4 linked regions of the Homo sapiens genome follow. The protein of the gene in region 4 interacts with the protein of the main gene of each other region in a biochemical or structural test. Each region holds a gene or a part of one and is shown on either strand. Other genes may lie near its edges.

Region 1 (7,031 bases), on a different chromosome or scaffold from region 4:
GCTCTGGCAGCTGCATTTCTTGAGAGCGATTTGCTGTTTTACTTCTTTGTGCCTGTTAGGATGGCTTCTCAGTGGATTCCTCTGAGAATGTCACGGTTAGTTTTGTGAGCCCAGGCAGAAAACAAGTAGCTCATGACTTTAGGCAACTCCCAAGAAACCTGCAAATGTCCCTGAGTTGAATACGAAACGGTTTTTATTGAATGAAAGTAGAAACAGAGGAAGCTACGGCTTTACCAGTGCGGCCCTCTGGGCTGTTGTTCGAATGTTACTTTATTTTATAGGCATTCACTGAGCCATTTTATTGTGGAATACATGTAAGGTATTTCTTGCAAGATAGTTTTAAAGAGCTAATGGTCCATTCTCAGAAAGAGGAGGTAGAGCTATTTCATGTTTTCATATTTAGCGTGGCAAGTGCTGAGAGGAGCCTTGGAAACCACCATTAGGAAGTTGTTACTGGAGGAGGACTTCCTTTGGCTGTGGGATGATAGCTCGTGTCAGTAGCTGTTTCTTTACTTCATTGGAGGTTGCCCTGGTCCTTTGAGTCTAAAGGCCTGGGTACTAGACCCAGAACCACCATTTCGCTAACCGTGGCTCAGAGCAAAGTCACAGTACTTTGCTGAGCACTTTTTCTGCACCATTAGAAAGGAAGCCGTAAGACCACTTGTGCCTCTCCTTACAGCAGAGGGTTGGGTGTGGATTTTAGGAGCAAGCACAACGATGCATGTGAAAATGTCTTGTAGAAATATGAGATACAACAAGACATTACCCTTATGGATTATGAAGGCAATTTCTTTTTTAGATTGAGAGGGAACTTAAAGTTTGTTTCCTGTTAAATCTCAGTTTACTTTGGATCAGACAAATTTGCAACTCCGGTGAAAAATTAGAGCCTTAGTGAGCAAAGCTTTCCTGTAGGAGCTGGTGCTTCCTGGGCTGTATCCAGAGACATGGACTGGGTCTTTCCCAGTCCCGCTCTGCCCAGTTTGTTTATGTTATAAGGGGCAGTGTAACAAGAAGCATGGACTTTTGAACCCCTATTTGTCTCTCCACCGACACCTATAAATTAAGAATCACTGGTGGCATTGTCATTTCAGATGAGAAAAGTATCCTCAAAGGAAATCGGTGTGATATAAACCTTTTAGCATAGAATAAATTGACTGTCAGAGTGTTGATGGCTAAGACAGAGAAGTGTGTGTGTGTGTGTGTGTGTGTGTGTGTGTGTGTGTGTGTCTAATTTAGAATATACTGAACCTATGCAGAATTTCTGACAGTCCTCATCTGACCCCTGAGGATTTTCTGGGTGGCACGTTAATTCCTCAAATAGTAATGATGCTTTTTTTTTTTTTTCCTTTGGGTGCTTTCCTGTAAGTGGACTGGAAGGGCAGGGTGGTGGCAGTGGAGAGAAATATTATGACTGAACAGATATTTAACATCTATTTCCTTGTAAGAGGGCCGGAGGATAGTGATCCTTCTTACTCACAAATCAGGGGCCACAGGCTCCCTACTACAGAGCAGTGCTTATGAGCCATAACTTGTGTTTGGAACTGGCAAAGACATTCATTCCTTCGTTAATATGTTTCTTACTTCTGAAGGCAAAAATAATGACTTAGTTTTTGCAGGTGTAAAAGATTATGCTGCCTTAGAATATCCCAGAGGATAGGCACAGTGTTCTCTTTCTAGAATTTGTTTAGCAATAAAAATGAACCGATCCTTAAGTTAATCAAAATAAAGCACTTGACACATTTTCTTCCATGCTTTTGTTTTATAGGGAGGCCTTTGTCTTTTCTATCTGTTCGAGCTCATAACACTTCCTCCGACATGTGCACTGTCTGTTGCCTTCATTTTCTCCTGGCTGGATGGGCTGAGAGAAGAGGGATGTGGGAGTGCCGTGTGTGGGGATTAGCTGCGTAGAGTGCTGAATATCTGGTGTAATGATTCACAATGGCTTGTGTTTCTAGGCAGTGGACCAATCCAGCTATGGCAGTTTCTTCTGGAATTACTCACTGATAAATCCTGTCAGTCTTTTATCAGCTGGACAGGAGATGGCTGGGAATTCAAACTTTCTGACCCAGATGAGGTAAGGAAGGAGGGGCTTGCGAGTACTGTGTTGAGGAAGGATGAGAGAAAACTCCTGGAAGGGGTGGCGTGGGCCTGAATGACGTGTTCCAGGATTGGGATTCCCAGCTCTGCCACTTGCCACCCGGAGCAAGCTAGGTAGCCTGTCTGAGCTCCAGGTTCATTATTTGGAAAATAGAGAAAAGATCTATGTTACCCCATTTGTCTTACAGGATTAGCTGATAGAAGGCATTAACGTGCCTGGCAGTAGGTCAGTTATCACCCATAGAGCTGCCTCCTGTGACTTAGCCTCTTCCTAGCCCGGTGGCTCTGTGAGTGTGAAAGGGGCCAGACAGTTCAAGAGGCCTTGGGAGATTGGCTCATTAGTTTCTTATTTCATTACACACATGTTTATGGAGTAGTGGTTCCGTGCCATGCCCAATTCTGAGGATAAAAAACAATGAACAGGAGAGACAACATCTTTGTTCTGGCAGACATGAGAAAATATTTGTGCCCTGGTATGGAAAAAAAACACTTCCTGTTGATGAAAGGCAGGTATGATTGCAGCTCAGCTCCTCCGCTTCACACTTCCCTGTTAGATTTCATGCTTGCAAAGCAAGGAGATTTTACTAATAATATGCGGAAAGAGGAGAATGTATAGTGTGGCTTTTTGTTTGTTTTTTAAAGTCACATATTTAATCCTAGTTCAGGGTCACTGTGTTTTCATCAACTTAAAGAATCATTGTGACTCCCATCCTTGCCCAACCCATGAAAAATGGAATTCAGGAGATAGGCCCGAAAAATATTTTCTATATCTACATGAATCTCAAATCATCTTACTTGAGCATCATGGGTCACCATGAATGGGTATAGCATAGGCATAGAAACATATATATTTGGCCTGTCTTGTAGATTTTTGCCTACTCCTCCTTTATTTTTCTTTTTAAATTTCAGGTGGCCAGGAGATGGGGAAAGAGGAAAAACAAACCTAAGATGAATTATGAGAAACTGAGCCGTGGCCTACGCTACTATTACGACAAAAACATCATCCACAAGACAGCGGGGAAACGCTACGTGTACCGCTTTGTGTGTGACCTGCAGAGCCTGCTGGGGTACACCCCTGAGGAGCTGCACGCCATGCTGGACGTCAAGCCAGATGCCGACGAGTGATGGCACTGAAGGGGCTGGGGAAACCCTGCTGAGACCTTCCAAGGACAGCCGTGTTGGTTGGACTCTGAATTTTGAATTGTTATTCTATTTTTTATTTTCCAGAACTCATTTTTTACCTTCAGGGGTGGGAGCTAAGTCAGTTGCAGCTGTAATCAATTGTGCGCAGTTGGGAAAGGAAAGCCAGGACTTGTGGGGTGGGTGGGACCAGAAATTCTTGAGCAAATTTTCAGGAGAGGGAGAAGGGCCTTCTCAGAAGCTTGAAGGCTCTGGCTTAACAGAGAAAGAGACTAATGTGTCCAATCATTTTTAAAAATCATCCATGAAAAAGTGTCTTGAGTTGTGGACCCATTAGCAAGTGACATTGTCACATCAGAACTCATGAAACTGATGTAAGGCAATTAATTTGCTTCTGTTTTTAGGTCTGGGAGGGCAAAAAAGAGGTGGGTGGGATGAAACATGTTTTGGGGGGGGATGCACTGAAAATCTGAGAACTATTTACCTATCACTCTAGTTTTGAAGCAAAGATGGACTTCAGTGGGGAGGGGCCAAAACCGTTGTTGTGTTAAAATTTATTTTATTAAATTTTGTGCCAGTATTTTTTTTCTTAAAAATCGTCTTAAGCTCTAAGGTGGTCTCAGTATTGCAATATCATGTAAGTTTGTTTTTATTTGCCGGCTGAGGATTCTGTCACAATGAAAGAAAACTGTTTATATAGACCCCATTGGAAAAGCAAAACGCTCTCACTGAGATCAGGGATCCCAAATTCATGGGACTTATATAAGAAGGACAATTAATGCTGATTTGGGTACAGGGGAATTATGTGTGTGAATGTCATCTACAATTAAAAAAAATTAGCACATCCCTTTACTTACTTGTTATCAGTGGATTCTCGGGGTTTGGACTTAATGTTGAGCTAAGAAGCATTAAGTCTTTGAACTGAATGTATTTTGCATCCCTGGTTTTGGACGACAGTAAACGTAGGAGCACTGTTGAAGTCCTGGAAGGGAGATCGAAGGAGGAAGATTGACTTGGTTCTTTCTTAGTCCTATATCTGTAGCATAGATGACTTGGAATAAAAGCTGTATGCATGGGCATTACCCCTCAGGTCCTAAGAAATAAGTCCTGAATGCATGTCGTTCCAAACTAACACTCTGTAATTTTTCTTTTATGTCTTATTTTCCAAGAGTCCTCCATTTTTTGCACCCCCTCACCGCCAACTCTGTTATTCAGTAGAGAGAAGTGTACGGCTTTCTGATTGGTGAGTGAAAAAGTAACTTGAGACACGACCTAAGTTGAAGAGTTTAGACTTGCTGAGTTTTAGAAGTGATGGAAATTAAGAGAGCATTTCAATAAAATGTGACTTGGCTGTCTTTGGAAGAGAAGTGCAAGGCTTTCCTTTGAAGAATTTAAATTAGTCCGGTAGGATGTCAGGTGAGACTGTGTATGCAAAATGAATGGCACAGGTGATGCCAGGGCCTCTTGCTTGGGTCTGATGTCTTGGCACAGGGTAAGTGAAGGTTAATTCCAGAAGAGAGGAATGACTTGAAGGCAAAGGAAACTAAGGAAGGAGGTTCAGTGAGGAAAATAAGGTTGTCCATGAGATTTGAATAGATTTTTAGTTCCCCCAAGGTTTAAATACAAACATAGTCAAGCAAGGTAGTCATCTTTCTGCTGGTTGTGAGGGGGAATCTGAAAATGGAGTTTTAGAGGAAAAGTCAACATCTAACTAGTGAGGAAAAGTGCCTAATACAATTAGAATCTCCCTCACTCTATAGTTGCCCAGTTGAAAGGATAAGGAGGAGGGGTGGCTTTTATGGACTTCCATGAGAGAAGGAAAGAAATATTTCAGGTAAGCTTCTCAGGGCTGGCCCTTTTTGGGATTTGGATGAGAAATTGGAAGTACTAACTACTTTCTAGCATATCTTTAAGAAAATTGATTGTTATTTACTCCCAGATCCTCTTGCAGACCCAGAATTATCAGGAACATAGCTCTGTGATTCATGAGTGTCCCCATACTGATGAATTGGAGCATCCATATGGAAAGCAAAGGCAGAATTATCCCAGCTGTATTATTTTGATCTTTTGGATGCAGGTGCCTTAATGAAGCTCTCAAAATATTTTAGGAGCTGCTCAGGGAGTGTTGGGTGGAACTGTTTGGACTACATTGTTTTCTCTTAGATTATGTGATTTTTGTTGGGCACTGGCAAAAGGTGTGTGTGTGAATGTGTGCATGTGTGTGAATGTTGTGTGTGTGTGTGTGTGTGTGTGTGTGTGTGTGTGTGTGTGTGTTTGCAGACATGCAAAACTGCAGCTGAAATAATACCTTAGATTTCTAGGTAAGTCTTTCCACATTTCAATAATGGGTAAGAGTAGAACCAGGGCCGGGTATCAATTATTGCTTGCTGTTTGCAACCAGGCATAAAATCACTTTCTCAAATCATCCACCGTTCCTATTAAATTTATGCCGGAAACTCTCCTTCTGTGAGTATAACTCCTGCAGTTCCTATAGCAGATAAGATATAAGAAAGTGCCTCCTAGTGCTCCTCCGCCCGCTTGTTTGCTAAAATTCCCTTTCTCTCTAAGTCCACCATTTTCAAGATTTGTAGATAGTGTATTAGTTAAGACAGCTTTGTCGATCTGGCCAGATGTTTTTTCTCCTTTGTCCAAAGGCCAGAGACCATCCCAGGAAGAGTGGTGGGTGGTTTATACACTGGAAATGTTGCGTTTATGCTTTTTAAAAACACACGTTAACTTCAGAGGAAGGATGGGCAAATCTGGTCTAGCTGGGTGAAACCCTTATTTTCCCAGAGATGCCTTAACCTTTGTTGGTTTTGGCTTTAGGGTTCAGAGTCACTTTTGTTCCCTTCTCCATTCTGGAGAGGGACTTCCCCTACATAGAGCCCTGATTTTTGTGGCTGTGGGGATTGGAGGTAGCATTCAAAGATCAGATGTGCTTTTCCTCACTTTGGAGATGAACACTCTGGGTTTTACAGCATTAACCTGCCTAACCTTCATGGTGAGAAATACACCATCTCTCTTCTAGTCATGCTGTGCATGCCGCTTACTCTGTTGGGGTCTATATAAATTTGTTGAACTCTTACCTACATTCCAAAGAAGTTTCAAGGAACCATAAATATATGTATACATATACATATATAAAATATATATATTAAAATAAAATTATCAGGAATACTGCCTCAGTTATTGAACTTTTTTTTTTAAGAATACTTTTTTTTTAAGCTGAGAAGTATAGGGATGAAAAAGATGTTATATTGTGTTTGACTATTTTCCAACTTGTATTTTCATATAATTTATATTTTTTAAAAGCTGAAAATTTAGAAGCAAGATGAAAAAAAGGAAAAGCAGGTGCTTTTTAAAAATCAGAACTGAGGTAGCTTAGAGATGTAGCGATGTAAGTGTCGATGTTTTTTTAAAAAAAAATGCAAAAAAATTCTTATGGCGGAGTTTTTTGTTTGTTTATTTTAGTAGCTGATGCTGGCACATCATTTTGCTGGAGAGTTTTTTATATACTGTAGCCTGATTTCATATTGTATTTTAAACTGTGTGAAATTAAAAACAAAGAATTTCATTCATAATGCTGTGGCTTTGGCTTGATTCTTTCTTGTCTGGATCATGTATTAAAGCAGGACAAATCAACCAACCAGAGGCAAGCACAGAGGGATGCAGTTTAGTCTTTCTGATCTCACTAGCTCAGGACCATTGGAGATAAAGATTTCCTAATAAGGTGAGAAATATAACAGGAATATAGGGAAGTCATCGAACATCCCAATCTTTGAATATATTGTGTC
Region 2 (7,031 bases), on a different chromosome or scaffold from region 4:
GTTCCAGGGTTGTGGCTACTCCGGGCCCATCTCAACAGCATCCCGCTTGGCTGCTCTCAGGATCGCTTGGCTGCTCTCAGGATCCCTGCTCTTTCTTTTCTTACTCCCTTCCTTCCAGGACAGGGCCAGAACTGGGGCCTCAGACTCAGATTCAGAGTCTAGCATAGTGCTTGGCTCGATGCACAGGCCCAGTAAGGGACTGCGGAGTCAACAAGGTGGCAGGCAAACGGGCTTGCCTGTTCCGGAAGGATGCACTCAGCGCTGCCTCAGTAAACATGACTCAGAGACACTAGGCCCCGTCCACGAACAGAGGAGTGGGAAAATGGAATGTGGTGTGGCCACATGCTGTCATCCTATTTTGCAGGTAAAAAGGAAGAAACTAGATCATTATGAATCAACACAGGTTGGTCTTAAGCAAATTAGAGATGATGTGTACGACGACATATTCTGTGTGTAAACAAATCATACAAAATATTATGTACTTATGGTGATACATGAAAATGTAAAAATATTTTTTTAGTGTATAAATAATGTAAAAGTATAAAAAAAAGGTCATCCGTTTGGAAGGAGACCCACTAAACTTCCAACAATCCTCTGGGTGTGGGAAGAGGCCTATGATTCGGGGAGAAAGGGAAGTGAGGTCTGGTCAAAGGCAACTTTAGCTCTTCCATTTCCACTCAAAGGATCTGTAATGTTCTAATTTTTCAAAAAGAAAAGTAGGCTTGAGGAGTAATCATAATATAATTAATTTCAAAGTAATTTTTTTTTTTTTGAGATGAAGTCTCGCTCTGTTGCCCAGGCTGGAGTGCAATGGTGCGATCTTGGCTCACTACAACCTCTGCCTCCCAGGTTCAAGTGATTCTCCTGCCTCAGTCTCCCGAGTAGCTGGGATTACTGGCACCCGCCACCACATCCGGCTAATTTTTGTATTTTTAGTAGAGACAGGGTTTCACCGGGTTGGTCAGGCTGGTCTCAAACTTCTGACCTCAGGTGATCCACCTGCCTCGGCTTCCCGAAGTGCTGGGATTACAGTCGTGAGCCACCGCACCCGGCCTATTTCAAAGTAATTTTTTTTTTTGAGACAGAATCTCGCTCTGTCACCCAGGCTGGAGTGCAGTGGCGTGATCTCGGCTCACTGCAAGCTCCACCTCCCAGGTTCACGCCATTCTCCTGCCTCAGCCTCCAGAGTAGCTGGGACTACAGGCGCCCGCATGGTGGCGGGAGAGTTTTTTGTAATTTTTTTTTTTTTTTTAGTGGAGACGGGGTTTCACTGTGTTAGCCAGGATGGTCTCGATCTCCTGACCTCGTGATCCACCCACCTCGGCCTCCCAAAGTGCTGGGATTACGGGTGTGAGCCACTGCGCCCGGCCGAGAAAGTAATTTTTTAAAGGAGGGAGGAAAGAAAGAACCATCTGGCCTGGACACACGGCTGAGTCAGCCCTCACCTGACTGAGCCTGTGACCGCCCCTGTAAAAGGTGGGTGGGTGAGTGTCCTCGCAGGTGCCAGTCAGCCCCGGAGGTTTGGGGACCCAAGGTTGGTGGCCTCTTGGGCACTGGGTGCCCACACAGCACATCTGCACCTGCCCATGCCAAGCCTACTTGCCATTCTATCTTCAAAAGTCTTGACCATGATGCCCTCAGGCAGTGAGGTAGCCAGCAGCGCCATCTCCTTCCGCACTGTGCTGAAGAACTTCTTGGCTTCTGGAGGCTGGAACTCAATTTTCTTAAAAGAATGATTTGCTAGAGGGGGGAAGAGAATAGTCAGTCCCTCATGGAGAGGCCCTGGAGCTCCATCTGCCAACCTGGCTGGACAGGTGAGCACACCCACAGACTTCCCACTCGCCGCTGCTGGCCTCAGCACTGTGACCACACAGGGAAATGGTTTGCCCTGGGGCAGTAGCTGGGGTCTGGCGAGGGGACTAACCACCCTGCACCCAGATCTGGTGACACAAACAGGAGCCCCGAGAAGGCGGGGGAAGGCGAAGACCAGGCAAGGGCTGACTCACAGGGTGCAAACTCCAGTACGGAGAAGACCTCGCCCTTGGCGCTGGTGAAGGTGACGCCAGGCTTGCCGCCACACTGCTGGCACAGCACCGGGGTTTCGCTGGGCCACTCAGCCTTCACAGGTGACTGCCCCTCGGGCTTGTCCTCCTTGCGCTCTACGTCGGGCACTGCTTCCATCTTCTCCTCCTCTACAATGGCCACATTGTCCAGGGTCTTCTTGAGGTTTTCCTGTAGCTTCTTGATGTCATCCAGAAACTTCTTCTCCCGAGTTGGCTTCTCAGGCTCCACAGTCGGAGAGGTGGGCGAGCCCGTCAGCAGCTGCTCCACAGTCATGTTCTTGAGGCTCTCCAGGATCTTGATGGCCTCTTTCAACTCCCGGAAGCTCTTGGGTGGCCCGTCCTTGCCAGCCTTCTCCATCAGCCCGGCCATGGGGGCAGCCATGGCCACAGCCCCCTGGACGGCAGCTGTGGCTGCCTCTTCACTGATCACCACTCCCTTGTCCTCAGGGGCCACCGGCTGCTCCAGGGGTGGGATGGGGGGCTCCTCTATCTTGGGGTGCTCGTCCTCCACCAGCCCATTGTCCGTCTCCCAGCTGTCACTATCATCTTCCCATTCATCCGAGGATGCCCCGCTGGTGCTGCCTTCTACCGAATCGTAGTCTGACTCCTCAATCTCAGACTCTATGTTGTACAAGTGCTGGGGGCAGAAGGGAAGTGCCAGGGTAAGCAGACAGGAAGTCACCTCCCCACCACTAAGGAGGAGCTCTGGGGATCCCTGATCCGCACAGCTGATGGCGACTGGGCTCATGAGGCCTTGGCAACCTCATTCCACCCTTTCCCTGACCTCTGCTCTGGCTTTTGCAGTCCCTAGGTCTCTGGGAGAGGCCCTTCACCTGTCCCACCCTCCAGCTGGACCCAAAGCCCCAGCCAGTGGTCTGTTCCAGCCTCTCCTCCTGCTCTGTGCACTTCGTCAGCATCTGTCCAAGGCGTTAGGGGACCTTGGCAGGCCCAGTCCCACACCTGAAAAGCGCAGGGTCAGCTAATGATGCAGCCAAGGAGGCCTGTGTGGGGAGCTGGGAACATATGACAAGAGGGGACATGTAGAAGGGCCGACATATCCTGCTGCGTTCCCTGGAATGGCCGTTAAGGTGATGGGGCAAGCCATTCCCGCCCCCACTCCTGCCCCCTGTGTGGACCAGGAGAGGAGAGCTGGGCTGTGTGGCTCCAACCAGGAGGCGAGGGAAGGAGAGCCCGTGTAGCCCTTCTGCTCAGGACCCAGCAGGTGGGGCTAGAACTGGGTCGGCTCTCTCCTTTCTCTCCTTCTCTGTTAGAGCTTTCTAAAAAGGGTGGTAGGAAAGTCTCCATCTCCTTTTAGGAGGGAACTTGCATTCTTCGTAGCATAGTGAGCTGACAATCCAGGAAAATCCTGGAGGTTTGTGAAAGTCTACATGCACCCAGAGATGGACGTGAAGAGATTGCTGGGAGAAGCGAGGCTGGTGGGCCAACTGCAGGCCTGCACCAAGGGCTGTGTGGAATGCCTGCCTTTCCCCTCACGCTTTCGCTGAGATCTCACCAGGAAGACCTGAGAGCCCATCTTCTGGCTACACGCCTGTGGCCCCCGGCCCAAGTTGCCATAGTCACAAGCTCAGCAGGGGGGTCTTGCCAGAGCCTCACCTGGGGCAGGATGATGGTCTTTGAGTTGTCAGCCCACACCACCTCCACCTTGCTGCTGACGTCCACACGGGCCACCTGGCCCACCGATGGCTGCTGGGCAAAGGGGACAAAGTCAGGGGGCCCAGCTCAAGCTCCAGCTCCCCAGCCCCTCCTGTGCTCTGCAGTGACTGACATCATGCCCACCTGGCTTGTGACAAGGAACTTAGCTCCTCTGGTAAATGTAACCAGCGGCAGCTCAAGAAGCCTGACCCCAGAAGGGAGGCAGGGAAACAAGTCCTTCTGCAGCTGCTAGTGCTGAGCGGCAGCTTGACTCTGGGGCAGCTGCCCTTCTGAGGACACTGAGCCCAGAGGACTTTCAGGTCTTGTCTCCTAGAGCCACCTGGTGGCAGCATCAGGGACTGCAGCTGGTGCACAGGGCAGTGAGCAGCCATCCAGAACTTGAATTTGAAGGCGTACCTCATCCTCCTTGTGAGGAGCCCCATCCTCAGTATTGCCGATGCGGATGACGATGTCAGTTGTACGGAACCTAAAGTCAGGGTGGTCAGCAATGTCGTAAACACTCACATCTTCCTCTTCTCCAATCAGCTGTGGCACAGGACAGGTTGTCATGAGCTAGGGGTCCTACACCCAACCCCAGAGCCCACCTGAAGCAAGCAGTAGGGGCTGCACACACCTCCACGTCGTCCCCACTCGGCCTCAGCTTGAACCACTTCACCATGCAGGTACGGCCGATGTGGTCCCCAGACTGTACCACACCGTAGACAGCAGGGTCTGGACAGCTCTGGACTAGGGAACCAGAGAAAGGGAAGTGACTAGCTAAGGGATCCCGGCTAAGGAGCCCACATCTCAAGCCAGTGCAGAGTGCAGAACCCTGACCTTCCCCCGTCTTGGAAGTGGTGAGACCCCTTCATGAGGGCAGTCCCCTTCTGGACCTCATTTTAGCTCTGACCCCAGATCCACTGCCCATTCTCCACAAGCCCCAACCCGGGCCCTCATTGGCGACCACCCTGCTGGCTGCCCTTCCAGAGCTGGCACTACCTCGCTTATCTACCACGAAGTCTCCAGGGCAGAACTCGTTGTTGTCCAGGTGGTGCACAGGGAAGAGGTCGTTGGAGCGGATGTTGCATTCCACGGAGCCATCCTGCCACATCACGTCGGCTGAGGTCATCGTGGTCACCACCTCCACTGCCACCCTGCGGGTGCAGGCCAGTCAGCAGGCCATGCAAACCCCACCCCCTCCGCGGAAAGGGCAGAGAGTCTTTCTGTCCCTTCCTGTCCCTGTGGGCTTGGTAACCTGAAACTCTGAATCCCAGGTTGGCAGGATGAGTCTCTGGTGCACAGGAAGCTCACCCAGGGTTCCAAGGCCACGCATTCTCTGAGAACAGGATCCACTTGGGAGAGCTCAGGCAAATGTGGTTCCAGAAGGCCAAGCTTAAGGCCACCACCATCCCACCCTCTGCACCACTCCTCAGTCTCTGCTTTCCACCAGGGCCTACCCCAGGCACCTACGTTGTCTCGGGTGGGAGCCCCGGAGCCACTACAAGGCATGCAGAGGTGTGTGTGCGAGCGCAGGCACGCACACCGAGGGGACGCGCACTCTGCCTGGCTTCACGCTGACGCCATTGGGGAGGGGCACAACTCTGAGTTTACCTGTCCCCTGGCTTGAAGTCTCGAGTGATTTTATTCTTCTTCCTCTTGTGTTTGCGCTTTAAGTTCTTGATGGACAAGGGGATGCTCTTTTTGCGACTCGTGCCGCTGCCGCTCTGGGAGGAAGTGGTGGAGCTGGCAGAGGAGGTCACCGAACTGGTGTCGTCCGTGTCATCAGCAGCCTCATCATCTGCGTCCTGCTCTGCCGAGTGCAGCCTGTCATCTCTGCCTTCTTTTAGCAGGAATGGGGGCAGCTGCTCTCCTGCCTCGTGGGGCTCCTCTGCACCCTCGTCCTGCATCTCCACTGGACTGGCAGAGCCATCGGGCGTCTCCTCAGGGCTGGCAGACTCCGCTTCGCTCTTGGTTTTGGATTCCCCCTTCTTGTCTGGGTCTTCCATGGAATGGTCCCGGGAACACTGGGTGTCTGGGGAGCATGACATGATCCGCACAACCTGCTTCTTCAACAGGCGCTTCACCTGCAAGGGCGGAGCAGAGAGGACAGGGCTGTGAGGTGCACCTGGGCAGGCCTGGCCCTAGGCATCTCAGGCTGGGGGGATGACAGCTGTATACACCTGAGTAGCCGGCAAGGGTCATCAGGGCTGCCCCCCAAGGCCTAAAGCACAGACTGTCCTTCTTGGCCATGGAAATGGCTCAAGGCCAGTTCCTCAAATGCCCACCAATCCCCAACCCCAAGGACATACCTTCTTGGCCATAGAGCCCTCCCCCTGGGCGCAGTTTTTTTCTGGACATTCCCAGGCAATCTTGGCTGGCTCTACCTTGGCTGGGAAGACATACAGACAGCGCTCCCCAAGCTGCCGCTGAGCATGGTCAAAGCATCCGAGACGCTTCACCCTGGTTGGGGAAGAAGTGGGGGTGAGCTGGGCTGGACTCCTGGGAGGCCAGCAGTGTTCTTAAGCCTCCCCAGGCATGTGACCAGGGCCCAGAGCCCTGTCCCACGCGTGCCCCTGGGTTGCTGGCAGTAAGGGCATGCTTACCTGCCTAGGTTTTCCTGGGTGATGACAGAGGGTGGGGGGCTGACGCTGTCCGTGCCCCCTGGACAGAAACTCTTGGTAATCCATGTAACTTTCAACTCTACAACCTGCACCTGGGGATGGCAGGTGGGACACGCCAGTCAGGGCAGGCTCTGACAGCACTCTCTTTAGCCAGCTGCCCAAAGCCCACTTGACCTCCAGAGCAGGAAACTGATCTTCCTAGTGCAGCACCAAGTACAGACACATCAGAGCAGGCCCCAACTGTAACCACGGCCCCCACCCAATGCCCAGGACCAGTGTCACTGCTCATACCAGCCAGGGGCCACTGGAACTGCCACTTGCCACCCTCCCACCTTGCTCAGCCTGTACAGGCTGGGCTGGGGCACATCTGTCTTTTGGTCACTATGACCAGAGCCTGGGTTCCCTTTATCCCCAAAGCCCTTTGAGATCAACAGGGTCCAGATGCTGAGGAGCGGGGCTCAACCCTCAAGAGCAGGAAGGAAAGGGGCAGCAGCTCAGCTCCAGGGTGTGGAGGTCAAGGACTCCATCTCCTACCCTTGGGCCCGGACCCACCTCTTCCACCACCACTCGGAACTTGCTCTTGGTGCTGAGCACGGGCTTGACACCTGACAGCCACTGGACGCTGGAGAAGATCTTGGCAGGGCCAATGAGCACCTGGCCTGGGTAGAAGCCATAGGAATCATCGAAGAAGAGA
Region 3 (7,241 bases), on a different chromosome or scaffold from region 4:
CTCCCACAACCAAACCAGCACCCCACAAAGTAACCTGACCCACACTCCCCTCTCCCTAGGGAAGCGTCACCCCAGCCCACCCCCCATCAATGTCCCATGAGACCCATGAGACATAAGCCCTCAGGCCTTTGAGCCTCCCTGACGCTCCAGGCCAGACTCCAGACCTGGCACAGGGCCTGTGCCGCTCAGCCCAGAACCCACGGGCAGTAAATATTTGTTGAATGATGGTTGTTTGGGTGTAAGCACTCTCCTGGCACTTGCACAGTGCTGTGCCCACTGCAGTGGCTACTGACAGGCGGGGCGGGACAGTGCTGAAGGCCAAATGACCTGAGGTGAGACCTGGTGTTTCTGGAAAGGGCAGGATGCTCCGGCCTTAGGTAGCCAGAGGCAGAACTTCATGCAGTTTCTCCCTCAGATGTGCTCCCTGGGGGAACAGACCTACTTCTGGAGGCCAGGCAGGCATGGGAGTGCGGGATGTGAGCATGACAGCTGCCACGTGGAAAGGTCAGCCCACGTGAGCCCGGTCAGCCCCATTTTTCAAGTGGGGCAGGCAATCCGTATGGGAGTGTGAAGTCCACCATCTTAGATGTGGGCCATGAATTCAAGATCACCAGCCGGGTCAACAAATGGCCAGTTCCAATTCACACTCCCTGTCCCTCTACTTCTGACACTGTACTCTCCCCTCGTTGCTCACTTTCTACCTTTACAGCGTCCAGCAAAGCCCTCTGGAGCACTTGTGGCCTGCCCAGGAGTGGCTTCTCTCTCTGTCACTCCACACTCCAGGGCTGGCTGAGCCTGTGAGGGTGGTGGTCAGGGGGACCCGGAGCCACACCTTGTCCTCACCTTCGTTGTGCTGGGCTCTTCTCCTCTCATCTCGGGGTGTTCTGGTTCCATCAATTTTTCTACAAGAGGAGGAAAAAAAAAGGGGGCATGTATTATCGCAGAGCTGTTTGCCCAAGCATCTGCTAAGTATTAGATTTGAAAATTATCTTTGCAAGGTAAATCCATCTGCAAAAACAAAAGACATGATACTTTATGTGCACTAGAGCAGCAGAAACAGGCAAAGAAAAAAAACATTACACCATGTGCCCACTTCATGCTAACTGCCCAGCTTCTACTCCAGAAACCCCTCTTCCTTCCATTTCAACACCAGGCCCTCCAGGTGTCCCCTGCACATACGGAGAGTAAGGGTGTGTCCGGGGGGCGATCGTCCTCTGTGTTCCTGTCTGAAGCACATCCTGGGGCGTCATCATGACGTAGAACTGGCCTGCAGGGAGAGTGGGGGGTTAGTGGCAAGGCAGGGTGAAGTCAGAACTGGCTGGGGGGGCTTCCCTCCCTGCTGGGCCCGTTGCCTCCCCCACCTGCCAATCTGACTTCTACTCCTCACCTCCAGCCTGCAAGCTCTGGTCTGTGGTCTGTACGGACACAGCCGTAGTATCTCCCACACTGGACGCTGGGAAATAGGCAAATCGTGCCTCCCCGCTGACAGCCTCGGCCGCCGGACTGCCACCATTGCTGAAGGGATTTTGGATCACAGCCTGGGGAGTAGGAGGGCAGAGGCTACCCTTAGCTTTCTCTGTTCCTCCATCCCGTCCCCTCATTGCTGTGCTTGGGGTTTACTGCATTCTCTGCAATTAACAGGAGTGGGGACTCCTTCTGCGTGTAGCATTCTGTCCTGTGTTTCAAACAGCCCTGGAACATGGCGGGAGGTCAGCGATCACTTGCTGAGCAAATCCGTTTCGCACTCTAAGAAACTTTCCTCTTAAGACACATCATTCCCATTTTGCGGGAAAAAAAAATTCCAAGAGCACTGTCCCCAGGTTTCACGGTGCACAACAGGGATCTGGCCCCATGCAGCCTGAGGCCTGAAGGCAGCATCCGCTGGGCGACACCTGCCCCACCCCCGGGGCTCCCCAAGAGCAGAGCCAGTGTCCCCTCTCCACTCCCTCCCCCCCCCACCCAGGGGTGGCAGGGCACCTACCAGCGGGAAGGGCGCTGCAGGACCTGGGGGCACAGAGGCAGCGGCGGGGCCCGGGCGCTGGGCTGCCCCGTCCACACCCACCTGGGTCACAGCCTGCTGCCCCCCCGCGAAGGCAGCGGTGGACACGACGCTGACGGCGCCAGCTGTGTCGCCCTGGCCGTCCAGCTGACCATCAGTCACCTGGACTACGCGGTATGTCACCTGCAGGGGGCGGCAGAGCGGCGAGGCCGGCGCTGGGGCCAGGTCCGAGCCTTCCCGGCGCGCCCGCCCGCCCGCCCGTTCGCCCTCGCGGCCCGCCGCTCACCTGTCCTCCATTTGTCTCTGTGCGGAACTGGTACTGGATGTTGTGGTCGCCGAACGCCGCCTGCTGGACGCTGGTGATGGCCACCGCTGTCTGCTCCTCCGCTCCTGGGCCGTCCCCGCCTGGGGCCGAGGAGGGTCGGGGCACGGTCAGGGCCGCGCCGAGCGCCCCCAGCCCTCCCCGGGCGCGGCCGGCCCGGCAAGCACTCACCTTCCTGCAGCTCGACGCCCTCCTCCGCCTCGGGTCCCTTGTCGTGGCTGCCAGGGGCACAGGAGGGAGCAGGGTCAGCGCGGCCCGCGCCCGCGCCCCCGCCCCCGCGCCCAGCTGCAGGGCCCCAGTCCCACCCGGCCGCGCCTGAGGCCGGGGGCGCCGCCGAGGCCGGGGGCCGGGGGCGGGAGGCGCCAGGTCCCCCCCGCGCCGGCGGCCTCCATTTTGAGCCGGGCCCGCGGCCGCTCGGGATCATGGCGGCCCCGGCCTGCAGGCCGCGGGGCCGGGGCCGGGGCCGGGGCGCGGGGGCACGGCCGGGCCGGGGATCTTACCTGGCGGCGGCAGCAGCGGTGGCCGAGGCAGCGGGATCCAGACCCGGGTCCAGCATGTCCATGGGGGGGGCGGGGGCGGGGGGGGCGCGGGGCCCGGGGGGGAGGGGAGGGGAGGGGAGGGAGGGAGGGGAGGGGGCGGGCGGCCGGGGGGGCCCCGAGCCCGGCGCTCACGCCGCGCGGCAGGAGGGGACGGAGGAGATACGGGAGCCGCTCGCGCTGATCACGGGGACAAACAGTGGGGTCATGTGAGGAGGAGATGCCGCCGCCGCCGCCGCAGCCGCCGCCGCTCCTGCAGCCGCTGCAGCCGCCGCCGCCTCCGCCTCCGCCCGCCCGCCGGCTCCGGGCGGCCCGAGGCTCCGGGACGCCGCGCGGCCGCCCCCAGCCCACCCAGCTGCCCGCCCGCTGCACGCGGCCCTCAGGCCTCCTTCCCTGAGCAGCCGCCGCCGCCGCGACTTTTTTTTTTGAACACGGCCCGCCCTGGCTGGCCGCCGCCAGTGCCCTGGATCGCCGGCTCGCGCGGCCGCCGCCCGGCTTGGCCCAGTCCGGCGGCGGATCGCTGCTGCAGCCGCCGCCGCTTTCTATTTTTCCCCCTTTTTTTTTTCCTCCTTTACTTGAGCTGCGCGCGCGCGGCGGCGGCGGCGGCGGCGGCGCGAGCCCCGGGGCGGACGCGCGCTGGGGGGAGGCGGCCCGGGGCGCGCGCGCTGGTCTGTCTCCGGGGGCGGGCGGGCGCGCGCGAGCCCGGGGCTCCGCGGGGCGCGAGGTCGCCGCGCGCCGCCCTGGTGAAACGCGGGTCTGGATGGAACGTCGGGGTACCCGGTGCAGGGGCTGGGGTCGTCGGGGGCCAGGTGGGCTGCCCGAGTTTGGAGACAGTAAAGTAGGTCGGTGGGGGGCTGGGGGGGATGGGCTGGAAGGGGAGAGGAGCGCGCGCGCGTCCCGGACGGCCAGCCTGCGGTGCGCGAAGGCGGAGGGCCGGGGCGCATGCGCACGCCTGGGCGGGGCCGGGGCGCGCACGCAGGCGGGCGGCGGCTGCGCGGGGCACGTTCTCCGGCCGGCGGCGCGGGCGCGGGCCGGGCCAGGCTGGGTCTCTTCCTCCCGGCCCCGGACTCCGGTGCCCCCGGGACGCGGCGCTTTACAGACGCATACGGGAGCAGCCCCGGTCCCCCGCCCCGCGCGGCCGAACAAATGGTTCTCTCCAGAGCTTGTGATTATACGTTTTATTAGACTCGGGAGGGGTATGGCAGGGCTTCATCAGTGTTCCTTCAAATTAAAAAAAAAAATACAAAAGCTACGTAGAAAACGTCAGATCAGACGACTAAACTTTCCCGACTCAGGGCCAAGTTCTGCAAGGGAGAAAGAAAGAAGGGTATGAGCCGCGGGGACCGGCTGGGGGCCCAGGGACGGTCTGGACGCCAGGGAGGGCGGCCCTCACCTTCTTGAGCCTGCGCTCTCGGGACGCCTGCGAGTCGGTCTCCGAGTACGGGGGCGGCGCGGGCGGGTAGTAGGCCTCTTCCTCCTCCTCCTTGTGGGGTCTCCTCCTCTCCTCCGACCCCTTCTTCCTCACAGCCTCCTCCAGTAGCCGCCCATCATAGGGGAGGTCCCCGGACCTGGAGCCGTTGTCCCGAGGGTCCCGGGTACGGTGGTGGTGGGACCTGGGGTCGGCAGGAGGGCGCTCCCGAGACCTGAAGTCGTCGTAGTGGGGGTCCCGGGAGCGTGGGAAGTCCCTCGAGTCGTCTTGGTCATAGAGGTCGTCCCGGCTGCGGCTCCGCGGGGGCATGTAGGCCCGGCTTCTCCCACCATTACTCGTGGGAGACCTGCTCCCTGACTCGGCGGTGCTCGGCGGGGTGAGGTCGTCCAGGGCGTCCACGGAGCGGGCCCGGGGCCGCCTGGCCCGCCAGCCCCCGCCTGCCTGCTCCCTGGCGGGCTCCTGGTCCCATCCCCTGGGACTCCGGGGGGAGTGGCCACCCCACTCCTCATCCCGGATCGGGGTGAGGGCAGGGCCCCGGGAAGGCCGAGATCGCCAGTCGTCCTCGTGGAGGGAGGTGACTTCACTCATGGCTGCAGGGAAGGGGGGTGTCACTGACTGCTGGAGGAGCCCGGGGTCCAGGGTTTGCACCAAGAGTCCCTGCGGCAGGTATCAGGGAGACATGTTTCACCCCCCCACCTTAAAAGCCCTCAGACCCCAAGGCTCCTGCTTACCCCGCTCCACACGGCCACTGGGGGGGCCAGGTCGAGAAGGGTCGAAGTTGGCCAGCTCCTTCTCCATGTAGTACAGGACCCGCATGGAGTCGTCCTGCTGGCTGGCCTGAATCCTGTAGCCACTGCGGACTTCTAGGGACAGGGGGGTGGTGGTCGGTTTGGGAGGATGGATCCTGGCCCACCCCTCTCCCTTACAGGCACATCCAACTTCGGGACGATGGATTCTCACCAGAGGCCACACTGCTGTCCGTGTCCCGAAGCAGGGGTACATAGGAGCCTTGGCCACCAGCTGGGGGAGAGTGGCTGTCAGTGGCCGCGCACCAGGAGCAGAGCCCCTCCTCGGCTCCCAAGACACTCTTCCTTCCAGCCCCTGCCCCTCAGTGTCCAGATGCCCAGCACACTCCCACCAGCTGTTCCTGCTTCCCCCGGCCTCACCTGAGCTACTCCTGTCAACGTCTCCAGGGTATCCTCCAGGGTACCCGTTGTAGGCAGGGCCCATGGGAATCATAGCTGGTGGGGGTGGGGTCTTGGCGGGAGACAGGTGGGCATAGGTGCTGGGGGCATAAATGCTGGGAACACCTGAGGTGGCTGCTTTGCCGGCGGCATACACTGTGAGGACACAATCAACAGGAGAAGGGGGATGAGGCAGGAGCCAGGCTGCCCCATACCCATTGGGTTCCGGAGGGACCTGGGCCTGGACCTCCTTCCCAAGCCGTCCTCTCCGCTGTAGAGCTTCCTTGGACATCTGAGTCCCTGTTGGTCCTCATTCCATTTCTGCAGCATCCCTGAGGCTGGGGGACACCAGCTTCACAGAGACCCCACCCCACTTCCTGTGTGATTTTTCAGAGGGTGCACGCAGGCACCCACAGCCCCAGGGTGGCAGAACAATGTTTCATTTAACAGCATGGTAATTCGCCAACATTTGTCAATCAAAAGGTTTTACCTAAACTTCCAACTCCCCAGCTAACTTACTGGAAGAAGTGGCCACCCATGGTCTGTGTGTTTACAGGGCAACAAAGCTGCCCTTTATATAAAGCCCAGATGCTGGGTCCACCACTGTCCCCACAAGCCGAAATCAAGTATCCTCTTTGGCAGCCAAGCCCCTGTTCTAGAAAAAATGAGTCATCTGGGAGACGTGGGTCCTGCCCACCTGGTCACCTTCCAGATTGAGATGCAGTGGCAGGAGCCTCGGGAATTAACTTGCCTGCCCCGGCCAAGCAGCAAAGTGTCTCCTCTAGTGTTTCTAACTCATGGACTGCACCCATTTCTGCCTGCCCCACCAGGCTCTAGGCTTGACAGTTCAAGGTAAGATCCTCCTCCCTTCCTTCCTCCCTAGGGCAAGAGGCTTGCAAAATTCCTGGGCCCTAGGCAAGTGGCTTCCTCCCTGGGACCCCAACAGGAAAATGGAGGAGAGAGATGGGCCCAGAGAGGGTGCCTCACCTCTGATTTGGTTTGGAAGCAGAAGACTAAGTGCACAGCCTAGAGGAAGCCCCTTCATTAGCTCAGGCAGCCTGCAACTTTATCATCAGCAGTGGGACCTGCTGCCTCCTGAAGGGTGGGCGGAGGCTGTGGCAGCAGCAGATGTAACAGGGCCTCTGCCAGGGAGTTAATGGGGCCCTGGGTTGGGGTAACAGGGTCTCCGGATGGAGGAAATGTGGTGTGGGGACAGGGGAATGTGGCATTGGGACCAGCATTTAGTCCTGGCCCTAGCTCTGGTCTTAGTGGGTTCACTGCAAACTTGGTTGCAGCCCATCTGTGAAATGGACCTAACACTTACTCACTGAGCAAAAAGCTGTCAGCTGAACACAACAAGAGGGAGGGGATGGGATGGCCTGCATAAGCCTCCAGGGAGCAGTGGAATTTTTTCAGGGAAGTGATCCTTTGAGGAACCAGGTTGCACACCACTGACTTCAATGACTATAAAATTAGCCAGCGACTTCCTTAATGCTAACAACAACCCATGAAGTCAGGACCTAACAGAAGGAAACAGGACTCAGAGAGGGAAGGCTGCTTCTCTGGGGTCACTCTGTGTGCACCAGGGCTCTGACTGGTGCCCTGTCCCTCAGTCACTACTGAGGCTGATAGTGGCAGTGCCCAGCAGCTGACAGACGTAGAATATTTTATATAGGTTGGGCCCCATGCTCAATGGTGTGCACATGAGCTCGCCAAATCCCCAGATGCACCCAGTGTGGTGAGCTCTGCCATAAGCCCCATTTTATAGGGG
Region 4 (4,431 bases):
TTTTTCCTTTTTTTTTCCTTTTGGCTTGGAAATGGACGTTCGAAGACTTATAGCATGGCATTCATACTTTTGTTTTATTGCCTCATGACTTTTTTGAGTTTAGAACAAAACAGTGCAACCGTAGAGCCTTCTTCCCATGAAATTTTGCATCTGCTCCAAAACTGCTTTGAGTTACTCAGAACTTCAACCTCCCAATGCACTGAAGGCATTCCTTGTCAAAGATACCAGAATGGGTTACACATTTAACCTGGCAAACATTGAAGAACTCTTAATGTTTTCTTTTTAATAAGAATGACGCCCCACTTTGGGGACTAAAATTGTGCTATTGCCGAGAAGCAGTCTAAAATTTATTTTTTAAAAAGAGAAACTGCCCCATTATTTTTGGTTTGTTTTATTTTTATTTTATATTTTTTGGCTTTTGGTCATTGTCAAATGTGGAATGCTCTGGGTTTCTAGTATATAATTTAATTCTAGTTTTTATAATCTGTTAGCCCAGTTAAAATGTATGCTACAGATAAAGGAATGTTATAGATAAATTTGAAAGAGTTAGGTCTGTTTAGCTGTAGATTTTTTAAACGATTGATGCACTAAATTGTTTACTATTGTGATGTTAAGGGGGGTAGAGTTTGCAAGGGGACTGTTTAAAAAAAGTAGCTTATACAGCATGTGCTTGCAACTTAAATATAAGTTGGGTATGTGTAGTCTTTGCTATACCACTGACTGTATTGAAAACCAAAGTATTAAGAGGGGAAACGCCCCTGTTTATATCTGTAGGGGTATTTTACATTCAAAAATGTATGTTTTTTTTTCTTTTCAAAATTAAAGTATTTGGGACTGAATTGCACTAAGATATAACCTGCAAGCATATAATACAAAAAAAAATTGCAAAACTGTTTAGAACGCTAATAAAATTTATGCAGTTATAAAAATGGCATTACTGCACAGTTTTAAGATGATGCAGATTTTTTTACAGTTGTATTGTGGTGCAGAACTGGATTTTCTGTAACTTAAAAAAAAATCCACAGTTTTAAAGGCAATAATCAGTAAATGTTATTTTCAGGGACTGACATCCTGTCTTTAAAAAGAAATGAAAAGTAAATCTTACCACAATAAATATAAAAAAATCTTGTCAGTTACTTTTCTTTTACATATTTTGCTGTGCAAAATTGTTTTATATCTTGAGTTACTAACTAACCACGCGTGTTGTTCCTATGTGCTTTTCTTTCATTTTCAATTCTGGTTATATCAAGAAAAGAATAATCTACAATAATAAACGGCATTTTTTTTTGATTCTGTACTCAGTTTCTTAGTGTACAGTTTAACTGGGCCCAACAACCTCGTTAAAAGTGTAAAATGCATCCTTTTCTCCAGTGGAAGGATTCCTGGAGGAATAGGGAGACAGTAATTCAGGGTGAAATTATAGGCTGTTTTTTGAAGTGAGGAGGCTGGCCCCATATACTGATTAGCAATATTTAATATAGATGTAAATTATGACCTCATTTTTTTCTCCCCAAAGTTTTCAGTTTTCAAATGAGTTGAGCCATAATTGCCCTTGGTAGGAAAAACAAAACAAAACAGTGGAACTAGGCTTCCTGAGCATGGCCCTACACTTCTGATCAGGAGCAAAGCCATCCATAGACAGAGGAGCCGGACAAATATGGCGCATCAGAGGTGGCTTGCGCACATATGCATTGAACGGTAAAGAGAAACAGCGCTTGCCTTTTCACTAAAGTTGACTATTTTTCCTTCTTCTCTTACACACCGAGATTTTCTTGTTAGCAAGGCCTGACAAGATTTAACATAAACATGACAAATCATAGTTGTTTGTTTTGTTTTGCTTTTCTCTTTAACACTGAAGATCATTTGTCTTAAATAGGAAAAAGAAAATCCACTCCTTACTTCCATATTTCCAAGTACATATCTGGTTTAAACTATGTTATCAAATCATATTTCACCGTGAATATTCAGTGGAGAACTTCTCTACCTGGATGAGCTAGTAATGATTTCAGATCATGCTATCCCCAGAAATAAAAGCAAAAAATAATACCTGTGTGGAATATAGGCTGTGCTTTGATTTACTGGTATTTACCCCAAAATAGGCTGTGTATGGGGGCTGACTTAAAGATCCCTTGGAAAGACTCAAAACTACCTTCACTAGTAGGACTCCTAAGCGCTGACCTATTTTTAAATGACACAAATTCATGAAACTAATGTTACAAATTCATGCAGTTTGCACTCTTAGTCATCTTCCCCTAGCACACCAATAGAATGTTAGACAAAGCCAGCACTGTTTTGAAAATACAGCCAAACACGATGACTTTTGTTTTGTTTTCTGCCGTTCTTAAAAGAAAAAAAGATAATATTGCAACTCTGACTGAAAGACTTATTTTTAAGAAAACAGGTTGTGTTTGGTGCTGCTAAGTTCTGGCCAGTTTATCATCTGGCCTTCCTGCCTATTTTTTACAAAACACGAAGACAGTGTGTAACCTCGACATTTTGACCTTCCTTTATGTGCTAGTTTAGACAGGCTCCTGAATCCACACTTAATTTTGCTTAACAAAAGTCTTAATAGTAAACCTCCCCTCATGAGCTTGAAGTCAAGTGTTCTTGACTTCAGATATTTCTTTCCTTTTTTTTTTTTTTTCCTCATCACAACTAAGAGATACACAAACTCTGAAGAAGCAGAAATGGAGAGAATGCTTTTAACAAAAAAGCATCTGATGAAAGATTTTAGGCAAACATTCTCAAAATAAGAGTGATATTCTGGATGTAGTTATTGCAGTTATCTCATGACAAATGAGGCCTGGATTGGAAGGAAAATATAGTTGTGTAGAATTAAGCATTTTGATAGGAATCTACAAGGTAGTTGAATATAATAAGCAGGTTTGGGCCCCCAAACTTTAGAAAATCAAATGCAAAGGTGCTGGCAAAAATGAGGTTTGAGTGGCTGGCTGTAAGAGAAGGTTAACTCCTAGTAAAAGGCATTTTTAGAAATAACAATTACTGAAAACTTTGAAGTATAGTGGGAGTAGCAAACAAATACATGTTTTTTTTTTCTTACAAAGAACTCCTAAATCCTGAGTAAGTGCCATTCATTACAATAAGTCTCTAAATTTAAAAAAAAAAAAATCATATGAGGAAATCTAGCTTTCCCCTTTACGCTGCGTTTGATCTTTGTCTAAATAGTGTTAAAATTCCTTTCATTCCAATTACAGAACTGAGCCCACTCGCAAGTTGGAGCCATCAGTGGGATACGCCACATTTTGGAAGCCCCAGCATCGTGTACTTACCAGTGTGTTCACAAAATGAAATTTGTGTGAGAGCTGTACATTAAAAAAAATCATCATTATTATTATTATTTGCAGTCATGGAGAACCACCTACCCCTGACTTCTGTTTAGTCTCCTTTTTAAATAAAAATTACTGTGTTAGAGAAGAAGGCTATTAAATGTAGTAGTTAACTATGCCTCTTGTCTGGGGGTTTCATAGAGACCGGTAGGAAAGCGCACTCCTGCTTTTCGATTTATGGTGTGTGCAAGTAAACAGGTGCATTGCTTTCAACCTGCCATACTAGTTTTAAAAATTCACTGAAATTACAAAGATACATATATATGCATATATATAATGGAAAGTTTCCCGGAATGCAACAATTAGCATTTTAAAATCATATATAGGCATGCACATTCTAAATAGTACTTTTTCATGCTTCATTGTTTCTCTGGCAGATAATTTTACTAAGAAGAAAAATAGATATTCGACTCCCCTTCCCTAAACAAATCCACGGGCAGAGGCTCCAGCGGAGCCGAGCCCCCTGGTTTTCTCGTAGGCCCTAGACGGTGTTGCATTTATCAGTGATGTCAAACGTGCTCATTTGTCAGACATAGCTGTAAATGAAAACAATGTGTGGCAAAATACAAAGTTAGTTAAATACACACCCTCTGTGTGATTTTTTGCTCCCTTTTCTTTTTTGCTCCTACTCAAAAAAAAAAAAATCACCTCCTTTACATTTCCCTGGCTTCTTGCATGTTTCCCTTTTCAAAAACCATGTAATAATTTTTTACAATGTATCTGACACATTAATATATTGACATCAAATAGGCAGACATTCTACTTTTGCCTGGCAAATAAATCTGCTACGGAGACATCATTTCCTCACTGTCTCAAAGCCATAACTACCTGGGAGTCTTTCAACACAGACCCCTCCGATGGGAAATGCTGTTTATTACTGAATGCAGGATGCTCACGCTCTGATCTTTTCTCCCTTGTGCCTTTACCCCAGTCATTTTTACTTAGCAACACCAATTCTAGATACTTCTGTTCTGAAGTAGAACCACCCCCTTGCCACACTGCCAGTTTTCCTGCTAAAAGCAGTGGACAGAAGACAGATCATGGTCACCCTCACAAACATGGCACACAGCTGTCTCGGTAGCTG

The links.
Region 1: the proteins of MAF (region 4) and ETS1 form a complex in vitro, tested with the Homo sapiens proteins (one study listed by BioGRID).
Region 2: of the proteins of MAF (region 4) and UBE2O, one has a biochemical effect on the other in vitro, tested with the Homo sapiens proteins (one study listed by BioGRID).
Region 3: the proteins of MAF (region 4) and USF2 form a complex in vitro, tested with the Homo sapiens proteins (one study listed by BioGRID).

What each region holds. Positions count from the first base shown.
Region 1 is NC_000011.10:128,458,552-128,465,582, reverse strand, and holds the end of ETS1 (protein C-ets-1), read left to right. Parts: intron 1-1,955; coding exon 1,956-2,074; intron 2,075-3,006; coding exon 3,007-3,222; 3' UTR 3,223-6,818; downstream 6,819-7,031. UniProt on the Homo sapiens protein: Transcription factor. Directly controls the expression of cytokine and chemokine genes in a wide variety of different cellular contexts. May control the differentiation, survival and proliferation of lymphoid cells.
Region 2 is NC_000017.11:76,394,122-76,401,152, forward strand, and holds part of UBE2O ((E3-independent) E2 ubiquitin-conjugating enzyme), read right to left. Parts: coding exon 6,890-7,031; intron 6,430-6,889; coding exon 6,320-6,429; intron 6,177-6,319; coding exon 6,026-6,176; intron 5,801-6,025; coding exon 5,328-5,800; intron 4,871-5,327; coding exon 4,716-4,870; intron 4,464-4,715; coding exon 4,351-4,463; intron 4,263-4,350; coding exon 4,134-4,262; intron 3,771-4,133; coding exon of another isoform or gene 3,768-3,770; coding exon 3,678-3,767; intron 2,701-3,677; coding exon 2,007-2,700; intron 1,741-2,006; coding exon 1,604-1,740; intron 1-1,603. UniProt on the Homo sapiens protein: E2/E3 hybrid ubiquitin-protein ligase that displays both E2 and E3 ligase activities and mediates monoubiquitination of target proteins. Negatively regulates TRAF6-mediated NF-kappa-B activation independently of its E2 activity.
Region 3 is NC_000019.10:35,264,744-35,271,984, reverse strand, and holds the start of USF2 (upstream stimulatory factor 2), read right to left. Parts: upstream 3,024-7,241; 5' UTR 2,884-3,023; coding exon 2,822-2,883; intron 2,540-2,821; coding exon 2,493-2,539; intron 2,405-2,492; coding exon 2,286-2,404; intron 2,183-2,285; coding exon 1,982-2,182; intron 1,539-1,981; coding exon 1,388-1,538; intron 1,268-1,387; coding exon 1,180-1,267; intron 903-1,179; coding exon 844-902; intron 1-843. Other genes in the region: LSR (lipolysis-stimulated lipoprotein receptor isoform 2 precursor), read right to left, coding at 4,126-4,161, 4,251-4,876, 5,018-5,149, 5,247-5,306, 5,453-5,626.
Region 4 is NC_000016.10:79,593,338-79,597,768, reverse strand, and holds the end of MAF (transcription factor Maf), read left to right. Parts: exon of another isoform or gene 1-3,215; coding exon 3,216-3,309; 3' UTR 3,310-3,931; downstream 3,932-4,431.